3 linked regions of the Homo sapiens genome follow. The protein of the gene in region 1 purifies or fractionates together with the protein of each later gene. This does not show direct contact. Each region holds a gene or a part of one and is shown in the gene's direction. Other genes may lie near its edges. The genes, in order: IFT80, KATNIP and IFT172.

Region 1 (3,500 bases):
AAAATAATTTAATTTACAATTAAAATTAAGAAATTTATAATTTCCTAATTATAAGAATGGAAGTGTCTTCTACATGTCACACTTCACCCAATTACCCAGTACATTTGTATGCAATACAAAGGATTTTTAAATTTTACATTCTATAAAATAATAGAAAAATCACCCAATCTATTTTATTTTATATGTGGAAGAAATTCATATCCAGGATCTTCCCAATAACAGAGCCCAAACTAGAACTCAAGTCTGTGTATTAGTAAATGAATATTAATTAGTGTAGGGCAAGGGAGACGGTTCTAATGAACACAAAACTGCTTTTATGTCCCACTACAAAGAGTAACCCAGGAGGAATAGAACCTATGTGGAGGTGGTAGGACTTGACAAGAGGAAAATGGGGGAAGCCCTGCTGAATGAAGTGGGGGAGCCCCTCTTCCCCTATGTACATAGGCATTACTATAATTACTATCCATCTTTGATTTTTAATTTCTTAGGAGAATCATATCTGTTTAACAGTGTTTTTAAAAGAATACACTAGGTTCTGATGATGATGATGACGATGATAAGCAATTCTTTATTGTAAAGATCAGTTTCTCTGAAACATTTCCATTTTGAAAATACCTAGAGTTATATTTCATGCATGCCTTGATATATATGAAACCAAATTCTTTTCTTTCTTAAAATATAAATTATGGTATTCCAGAAAGAGTTGAACTTTTTAAAATGTATTATGAACTGGTATATGACTGATTCATCAATTTGGATAAAGGTGTATGTGTGTTTTGTTTTACTTTAAAAAGTGTTTTTTATAGTACATTTTGATACAATGACTTGATGTTGTAGTCATTATTCTGGTTGAATTCACAATTCCTACCAAAGTCTTCAGACATTGTAGGAGGTAAATAAATCTTGCTTGGTTTGAATTAAAATGAATCTATATTAAAACATTTTCAAGTTATAGTAAAATTCATCTCACTAGCAAATGAAAAGCAGTGATCTTGGAGTTAGAAGTCTGAGTTGCAAGTTTAGATATACTTGACACTGGCTTTTTCTGAGCAAAATCACTTAGTGAATATGAGTCTAGTCTTCTGATTTGCAAAGTAAGTATAGTAATACCTACATTACAAGCTTGTTTCCTATTTTGCAAGAATGAATGTGAGAGAATCTATAGAATTTAAGGCCCTGGACACATGATGTATTTCCACATATTTCCAAAATTTTTTTTACAAATATTTAAGATATAGTTGTTAGGCAACTTATTAATCAAAATAGACCTCTCATATGATACTCAGAATTGCCTGACCCTTTCACCTTGACTACGAAAGGTAGGACAGGACAGATCGAGTGTTTCTCAGCCTACAGAATATCAAAATACATATTATTTTATTGTATTTTAAGAGGTATCTTTTCCTTGGATGTCAGGCAAATATACTTCAGTGCAGCTTTTGAACGATTAACATATTGGCAGTTTAAAATTATTTAACAGGGACATTTTATCATTATAAATGGGGAAATGACATTTAATTGATCTTAAAGGAAATGATTTTATAATTAATTAAAATGATCTTATGTCAAACACTAAAACTAACCCAGTATTTACATTTAAAAAAAATTTTAGAATGAAATCTTGGAAATTGCTCTGGATCAAAAAGGACTTACCAATGATAGAAAAATTGCTTTCATTGATAAAAATAGAGATCTCTGTATCACTTCTGTGAAACGATTTGGGAAGGAAGAACAAATTATCAAGCTTGGTAAAATAATTTTAATACATTTTAAGTTTTAATTGTCAACTTTCTTATATTTGCTGTAATAAATAATTTGAATGAATCTGGAAATGTTTTAATGTTTTGATCTTGTAATACTTCTTAGCTATTTAACCCTTTTTTTAAAAAAGTAGGAGTGAAAGTTTATTAAAAAGCTTTATTTTTAAATTTTTATTGTGTTTTATTGAGACAGGGTCTCACTCTGTCACCCATGCTGGAGTGGAGTGGCAAGATCAAGGTCACCAAAACCTCCGCTTCCTGGGCTCAAGTGATTCTCCTGCCTCAGCCTCCCAAGTAGCTAGGACTACAGTCATGTGCCACCACATCCAGCTAAATTTTTTTGTATTTTTGGTAGAGACAAGGTTTCACCATGTTGCCCAGGCTGGTCTCGAACTCCTGAGCTCAAGCCATCCACCTGCCTCAGTCTCTTAAAGTGCTGGGATTACAGGCGTAAGCCACTGGGCCTGGCCTATTTGAAAGCTTTAGAGCAGGAAAGAAAGGAAATAAAGTAAACTTGGTAGAGGGCAAGCAGGCAGCTTGAGAGATCAAGTGCACTGTTTGATCTTTGACTTGGGGTTTTATACTTTGGCATGCTTCTGGGGAGTTGCAACCCTTCTGCCCTAATTCTTCCCTTGGGTGGGCTGTCCACATGCATAGTGGCCTGCCAACACCTGGGAGGGGCCACATGCACAGTGTGTTTACTAAAGTTATACACATGCTCACTTGAGGCGTTTTTCCCTTACCACTCCAGTGTTTCTAGAGGAAGTTTGTATACCAGTTAAACTCCTCCACCATTTTGCCTGTTAGTCATGTGTGAGCCCACTCACCTAGCTCTTGAGATCTTATTGAGAAGCTACTGATTTCCAGTTTCAGTGTTTATATTGAGAGACTACCTTTCCCTGGCACTGGCTGCAACCAATTATTATTTTAGAGAGACAGCTTAACAACAGCCTGACCATCACCTGATGGTCACCTGACATTCCTGGTGCTGGTGGCAGGGGCCTCTCCTGACTTGCTCATGTCTGCCTGACTACCTGCTGTAACATTTCCACCCTCAAGAGTCCAAGACCCCAATTCTATGGGGAAAATGGACAAAAGTCAGTCTTCTGTAACTGCTTCCTGCTGACAGAGGGGCAATGGTGGTTATTCTGTGGATCTTGGCCTCTTGCTAGCTGTCAGGGCAGGGTGGCTCCGTGGGTTGGTGAAAGCAGTATGCAGCTAGGTCCAAGGGAGACAAGGGAGGACTTCACCTCTGTCATGTCCCACTGATGGGCAGACTAGGGGTCCCCTGTAGAAGAGTGACTCTTGAATATTGAGGGGACGGTATTCCTCACTGAGGATCATCTGGAGCTTGATGGCCTGAGGGCAAGAGGATTAACTTATTAGCAAGTCTTTAGCTGCTGCAGCTAAATTGTCACTGAAAGAAAGATTTACAGATTAAAAATATAAGGGTTCTAAGTAAAGCATTCAAATATTTCTGTAAATTCTTGTGTGATTGTTTGGTATGTGTTTTTCACCATTATAGAATCAGAAAGTAGAGTCATATCTACCAGAAATTGTATGGGATTTTGTTTGTCAGGCATTTTAAAGATCTATTTTTAATTCTTACATATTAAAGCTAATAGCACATTAACATTCTTTTTAAATTAAGGAACAATGGTGCATACTTTGGCATGGAACGATACATGCAATATCCTTTGTGGACTTCAAGATACTCGATTTATAGTGTGGTATTACCCC
Region 2 (3,729 bases), on another chromosome or scaffold:
CCCTAATGCTTCCCTTGCAGGATTGTTCTGAGGATGACATAGGACAAGGCAGTCTGTTATCCTTTAAACAGAATATCCAGAGAAGTGACTAATATTCCCTATGGGGACCCCACTCTGGTGATCCTTGGGCCACATCTGCCCATGAATGTGGCTTGTTTGGCCTGCAGAGTGCTGGAAACCTTTCAGAGCTCAGAGCTGCCAGGCAGGGTACGACCCTCCCACCTCCCTGTGACCCCTGCATACCACTGATTTCCACCTGAGCCCACTCCTCTCTTACAAGCCTGACCCCTGCCTCCGCCTGCTTCCCTCTCTCAGTTCCCTCTCCGCCAGACGTCTTGGTGGGAACAGGGCTGGAGGTCAGATGGGCTCTGGACTGGGGAAGGAAGATGGGTGGCCATGTTGTGGAAGCCGGCCACCCTATTAGGAAAGCTAGGATGCCCACCTTGTGACTGTGCTGGACTAGATGGTTTCCCCATCACCCACTACCTCTTTAAAGGAAGGTGTTTCTGTCTCACCAGATATCCCTGTGGCAGTAATTTTGCAGAACCAGTCATTGAAAACTGCCCATGCTGTCCTTCTCAAATAGCTGTTCCCCGGTGAATTCACAGCACGCACTTGCTCTGTGCCTCTGCTAAACAGAGAATCCATCCATATAAGCAGGTAAAAGAGTGCTTTGAGAATCGACTTTTCTGACAGTCGGCAAATGGTAGCCTGCCATCTGCAATTGGAGGATTGAAGCCGAGTTCCTGTGGCGTAACGCAGGCCGGACAGTTCTCCTTCTAAATTGCTGCGGAAACCTCTGTAACTCAGTGATCCTGAAATTTGTTAGCTCCTACTCACCTAGCTTTCAGGAAGGCTAAGAAGGGGTTAGTATAGGTGAACATCTCCAGGGTCTCAGATTCTGTCTCCCAAGAGCAGATCAGAAGCCAAGGCAACACGGGAAATAAACGATCTGGAGGTGAAACCCACAGGCCGCCGCTTTTCTGATCAGGTTCATTCTTAGAGCACTGTTGAGACAGCAGTGCTGTTCAGGAGAGAAAACCCATGTTTATTCATTTGCTATTCCAAAGTAATTTATTTATTTATTTTGAGACGGAGCTTCACTGTCGTCACCCAGGCTGGAGTACAATGGCACGATCTCAGCTCACTGCAACCTCCCCCTCCCAGGTTCAAGTGATTCTCCTGCCTCAGCCTCCCGAGTAGCTGGGATTACAGGCTCACGCCATCATGCCTGGCTAATTTTTGTATTTTTAGTAGAGACGGGGTTTCATCATGTTGGCCAGACTGGTCTCGAACTCCTGACCTCAGGTGATCCATCCACCTCGGCCTACCAAAGTGTTGGGATTACAAGCATGAGCCACTGCGCCTGGCCCAAAAATAATTGTTGGGTGGCTACAATGTGCCCTTGGACAAGACGGGCAGGGCTTCAGCTGTCTTGGAGCCTAACTTTGAGTGGGAAAAACAATAAATAAGTTAAAAGCTGATAAGCAAGACCATTCAGAGACTAAAAGGAAATAAAACAGGGCAATAAGATAAAGAGGGGACCGATGAGGTGGGGCTGCCCTAGAGGTGTGTTCACTGAAGGTCCTGAACAGAAGAAGGAGCAAGGCTGTGGGCATCTGCGGCAGAACACGCCAGGCAAGTGCACAGGCTCTAAGGCAGGAGGAACAGGCTGAGCCACATCAAGGAATCGAGGCAAGCGCCAGGAGCCGGAGTCAGAGAGGTCAGCAGGCACCCCTGAAGGGGAGTAGGATTTCTTGTCAGTGCCATAGGAAGTCACTGGGCAGCTTTAAGCAGGAGGCTCCCATGATCTGATTTCAGTTGTTAAAAAAAGACTCACTGCTGTGTGGAAAATGAAGTGAGTGCAGGGTTTGGGGGAGACAGCCCAGAGTGGAGGCAGAGAGACCAACTAGGAGGCGATGGTGGTGTCTCTGGGGGAGACCCTGGTGGCCCAGGCAGCAGCACACGCGGGCAAGGAGGTCAGCTCCAGGGCGTGTTCTGGAGAGAGAGCCGAGGGACGTGCCCACATACTGGATATGAGTGAGAAAGTGAGAGGGGACGAGGGGACGGCAAGCTTTTTAGCAACCGCTCGAATGATGGACCCATTTTTAAGATAGTTTAAGACTAAGTGTGGAGAAAGTGATTTCAGAATTCTGTTTCAGGCACACCAGGCACATTGACTCACACCTGTAATCCCAGCACTTTGGGAGGCCAAGGCAGGAGGATCCCTTGAGCCCAGGGGCTCAAGACCAGCCTGGACAACATAGTGAGACCCCGTCTCTACAAAAAAAAATTTATTTTAATTAGCTGGTCGTGGTGACGTGTACCTGTAGTCCCAGCTATCCAGGATGCTGAGATGGGAGGGTCACTTGAGCCCAGAAATTCAGGTTGCAGTGAACCCTGATCGAGCCACTGTAACGCCAGCCTGGGCAACAGAGCAAGACCTTGTCTCTTAAAAAAAAAAGAGAGCATTCTGTTTTGGGCATTTTATATTGGAATTCCTGTTAGATATCCAGGAAGAGAGGCCAAGCAGTCACTTGGGGCTTGGTGGAGAGGTCAGGGTTGGAGATGAAAATAACTGGGAGCCTGGGACCTGAATGAGACCACCTGGAGAGCAAGGGAAGAGCACTCGGGAGGCCTAGGACTGAGCCCTGGGCAGCCTAGTCGTTCAAAGTGCAGCCGAAGAAAAGGAAGCAACCCAGGAGTCGGGCAGGCTCAGCCAGCGAGGCAGGAGGAAAGCCAGGTGGGTGCAGAGCCACACAAGCCCCAGGGAGGAAAGTCATCGCAAAGGAGGGGAAGCTGCCGAGTACTGCCGAGCCGCCACACCCACCCACTCCTAGGAGAAATTCCTATTGCGTATGGCAGTCAGCTGGACCCTGTAATTTACTTTAGGAACCAGACACTTCTGAGAGTCATTAGTAATGACACCAGGATAACAGATATAAATCAGAATTGTCCCAGACAAACTAGGATGGCCCGTCACCCTAGTTACAGGTGCCCGGGCCAGGTGGGTTCCATGTGGAGGTGGAGGCAGAAGCCCAACGGGAGGAGGAACAAGGGGTAGTGGGAGGAGGAGCCCACGGGGACAGTGACACTCAGAGATTCACTGACGGGGTGACGGACAGATCATGCGGGGGGCCCTGCAATGGAATATTCCTTAGCAGTAGAAAGGAAAGGAACTATCAGTTCCCATAACACAGGTGAATCTCAGAGCAGTTATGGTGACTGAAAGAGCCGAGCAAAAAAGACTACATGCAACATGATTCCTTTATGTAAACATTCCAGAAAGGACGATCAGTATATAGGGAGGGACCATAAGTGGGTGGTTGCCTGGAGCCAGGGAAGGAGGAAGGGGAGACAGGGGTTACCAAGGGGCACGAGGAAACCTTAGGGTGATAGGTACGTTTGTTCTCTTGAGTGTGATGGCTTCATTGGCGTAGACACATGTTAAAACTGATCAAGCTGTACCCGTTAAATATGCACAGTTTATTGTATGGGGTGTGTATTCTATTCCCCGATAAAGCTGGAAAAAGAGTTTTGCTGTAAAGAGGATGACACAAGTGAAACAGTAGCAGGAGATGTGATTTTATCTTAAGCATGGAAGGAAGAGAGTTGAACCTGCGTGACATAGGGGCATTTAGGCTGGCAGTGAGAGAGGAGAGCGAGGTGGGGACCATTTGTGAAGGTTACTGTATGTCATGTGGAGAGCTTTGGAATTTATCCCATCAT
Region 3 (3,729 bases), on another chromosome or scaffold:
AACAGTTGCCTTAGGCCAGGCGTGGTGGCTCACACCAGTAATCCCAGCACGCTGGGAGGCTGAGGCAGGTGGATCACATGAGGTCAGGAGTTCAAGACCAGCCTGGCCACATGGTGAAACCCCATCTCTACTAAAAATACAAAAAATTAGCCAGGAGTGGTGGCACACGCCTGTAATCCCAGCTACTCGGGAGGCTGAGGTGGGAGAATCGCTTGAGCCAAGGAAGCAGAGGTTGCAGTGAGCCCGAGATCACACAACTGCACTTCAGCCTCGGCAACAGAGTGAGACTCCATCTCAAGAAAAAGAACAGTTGCCTTGGAAAGGGTGTGTGCAAATAAGGAGCCCTGAAGCTTAAGCTTCTTTTAGTTTCCCAGTATTTCTGTTGGTATAGTAGTTAAAAGGCTTTTGGTCCTCATGGGCTGGCATCTTAGCCAGGCTGAGGAGAGCTTGCTGCTTTCTGATCCTCATATCTTTCTGGTGTCCCTCTCTGCTCTGCCTGTTTCCCCTAGAATGCTGTGGAGGAGGCCATGGGCATGTACCAGGAGCTACACCGTTGGGATGAGTGTATCGCTGTGGCTGAAGCCAAGGTACCTGTTTTATCTTCTCCACAGTTGTTCAGAATTTGGTTCTGCCAATTTCAAAAACCTCCTTTTGTCAAGGAGGCCATAGAAACCAGAACAGGGTTGGGGCTTGGACTTGATGTGGTGAGGAGTTAGGATACTGCTGACCCAGGAGGATTCCCCTTGTTATAGAGGGATTGGAGAAGCATGGGAGGCAGAAGGGTAGGAAGGGGGATGTGACTCCTAGTTGTCCTCTGTGCATGTCCAGGGGCACCCAGCCCTGGAGAAGCTACGTCGTAGTTACTACCAGTGGCTGATGGACACACAGCAAGAGGAGCGAGCAGGTGAACTACAGGAGAGCCAAGGGGATGGGCTAGCAGCCATCAGCCTCTACCTCAAAGCTGGGCTCCCTGCCAAAGCTGCTCGGCTGGTGCTGACCCGAGAGGAACTGCTAGCCAACACAGAGCTGGTAGAACACATCACTGCAGCCCTTATCAAGGGGGAACTCTACGAAAGGGTATGCTGGCTTCCTTTTCCTAGCCCTTATCTCCAGAGCTCAGGACCCTTCCCTTACCCAGAGGAGTCTTGGGGTGCAGAGCGCTTCCTGACTGCTGGTGTTCCCTTGTTTTCGGAGCTAATACTTAGTTCTTTGTGTTGTAGGGGTATCATAGTAATGTGGTATGTGTTAACAGGCAGGTGATCTCTTTGAGAAGATTCACAATCCACAGAAGGCCCTGGAGTGCTACCGTAAAGGCAACGCATTCATGAAAGGTACTAGCCACCTATAAGCCATCCTTTACTGTTGTGGACTCTTGCCCATCTGGTTCCCTGGCACCTCTTGTAGGGGTGGGTTGCCCCTACACACCTGTGGGTGTTTCTCGTAAGGTGGGACGAGAGATTTGGAAAAGAAAAAGACACAGAGACAAAGTATAGAGAAAGAAATAAGGGGACCCGGGGAACCAGCGTTCAGCATATGGAGGATCCCGCCAGCCTCTGAGTTCCCTTAGTATTTATTGATCATCTGTGGGTGTTTCTCAAAGAGGGGGATGTGTCAGGGTCACAAGACAATTGTGGGGAGAGGGTCAGCAGACAAACACGTGAACAAAGGTCTTTGCATCATAGACAATGTAAAGGATTAAGTGCTGTGCTTTTAGATATGCATACACATAAACATCTCAATGCTTTACAAAGCAGTATTGCTGCCCGCAGGTCCCACCTCCAGCCCTAAGGCGGTTTTTCCCTATCTCAGTAGATGGAGCATACAATCGGGTTTTATACCGAGACATTCCATTGCCCAGGGACGGGCAGGAGACAGATGCCTTCCTCTTGTCTCAACTGCAAGAGGCATTCCTTCCTCTTTTACTAATCCTCCTCAGCACAGACCCTTTACGGGTGTCGGGCTGGGGGACGGTCAGGTCTTTCCCTTCCCACGAGGCCATATTTCAGACTATCACATGGGGAGAAACCTTGGACAATACCTGGCTTTCCTAGGCAGAGGTACCTGCGGCCTTCCGCAGTTTTTGTGTCCCTGGGTACTTGAGATTAGGGAGTGGTGATGACTCTTAAGGAGCATGCTGCCTTCAAGCATCTGTTTAACAAAGCACATCTTGCACCGCCCTTAATCCATTCAACTCTGAGTGGACACAGCACATGTTTCAGAGAGCACGGGGTTGGGGGTAAGGTTATAGATTAACAGAATCTCAAGGCAGAAGAATTTTTCTTAGTACATAACAAAATGGAGTCTCCTATGTCTACTTCTTTCTACACAGACACAGTAACAATCTGATCTCTCTTGCTTTTCCCCACACCTCTTGGTGCGTGTGTTCAGGATGCCTGGCTCCAGTCCTCCATTCCTCCCCTTCTTACCTATTCTCCATGCTTCATCTCCCTGTCCTACCTTTTTCCTGAGGCCCATCCCTGGAAATCTGGGCTGAGCATCTTTTCTCTCCCTGGCAGCGGTAGAGCTGGCTCGATTGGCCTTCCCAGTGGAGGTGGTGAAACTAGAGGAGGCATGGGGGGACCACCTGGTGCAGCAGAAGCAGCTTGATGCAGCCATTAATCACTACATCGAAGCCAGGTATGGGAGTATGGGAATGTAAAGGAGATTTAGGTGTGAAGTGAGGGGCAGTGGAGCAAGTAAGGACACCAAGGCCTTAAAGAAGAGATCTCAAAATGTAGGTTGAAGTGTGCTTAAAGGGTCCTTTTACCTCCATTCATCTTCATCTTTCATCCTACATATTTATATCTTTCCCAACTTTGCCAGGTGCTCCATTAAGGCAATTGAGGCCGCCCTGGGTGCCCGCCAGTGGAAGAAGGCAATTTATATATTAGATCTACAGGACCGGAACACTGCATCCAAATACTATCCTCTCGTGGCCCAACACTATGCATCCCTGCAGGAGTATGAGGTGAGGAAGAGTCCCTTTCCGCAGCACGAGGCAATGCAGTAGAGGATAACAATGAGAGAACCCAAAGCAGGAAGTGGAGGCAAGTTCACCAGATCCTTCTTTCTGGGCTCCAAACAGCATCATCACCTTGAAGGGGAAGAGAACAGTTTACTTTCCCATTTTCATTCCAGTGTGACACAGATATCGCCCTTCACCCCAGATATATAAAGTGAGTCTCTAGCTGTGTTCCAGTCAGCGTGATTCTTCATGAATAATGCTAACATAGTTATGATATAAAATTGCTTTGCATTGCAGAAATGTGAGGCCCTTTTGGATTCCACTGTTTGGGGCTGGTCTTTCTTTTTAAATGGTAGAATGTATGAGACACCCATACTCATCTTTTCTTCTCTATTATTACAAGGTTGTATCGCAGGCTCTCCACCATCCCAGCCAAGGTTTGTTCTTTCCTCATTCAAGCTGCTTTAAGTCTGTTGCTCTGACCTTTTGTATCTACCTCCCATCAACTACAGATTGCTGAGGAGCTCTATACTAAGGGAGATCGGACAAAAGATGCCATAGACATGTACACCCAGGCTGGTCGTTGGGAACAAGCCCACAAGGTAGGGATGGGTGGAGTTCATGATAAGAGAACTCTGCCTTAGTGGCATTGTGGCCTCATTCCTTGATACCTGTTTCTCCTCTTCGCTTGGCTCCCTGAAAGCTGACAAAGAGTACCAAAAAACAGTCTGAGCCACTTTGATCCCTAGCCATAGGGAAAGGAA

Evidence for each region.
Region 2: the proteins of IFT80 (region 1) and KATNIP purify together in Homo sapiens (tandem affinity purification; one large-scale study listed by IntAct). This does not show direct contact.
Region 3: the proteins of IFT80 (region 1) and IFT172 purify together in Homo sapiens (affinity purification with mass spectrometry; one large-scale study listed by BioGRID and IntAct). This does not show direct contact.

The regions. Positions count from the first base shown.
Region 1 is NC_000003.12:160,280,726-160,284,225, reverse strand, and holds part of IFT80 (intraflagellar transport protein 80 homolog), read left to right. Parts: intron 1-1,612; coding exon 1,613-1,748; intron 1,749-3,411; coding exon 3,412-3,500.
Region 2 is NC_000016.10:27,734,931-27,738,659, forward strand, and holds part of KATNIP (katanin-interacting protein), read left to right. Parts: intron 1-564; exon of another isoform or gene 565-660; intron 661-3,729. UniProt on the Homo sapiens protein: May influence the stability of microtubules (MT), possibly through interaction with the MT-severing katanin complex.
Region 3 is NC_000002.12:27,458,617-27,462,345, reverse strand, and holds part of IFT172 (intraflagellar transport protein 172 homolog), read left to right. Parts: intron 1-509; coding exon 510-587; intron 588-828; coding exon 829-1,077; intron 1,078-1,252; coding exon 1,253-1,331; intron 1,332-2,516; coding exon 2,517-2,637; intron 2,638-2,823; coding exon 2,824-2,968; intron 2,969-3,477; coding exon 3,478-3,567; intron 3,568-3,729. UniProt on the Homo sapiens protein: Required for the maintenance and formation of cilia. Plays an indirect role in hedgehog (Hh) signaling, cilia being required for all activity of the hedgehog pathway.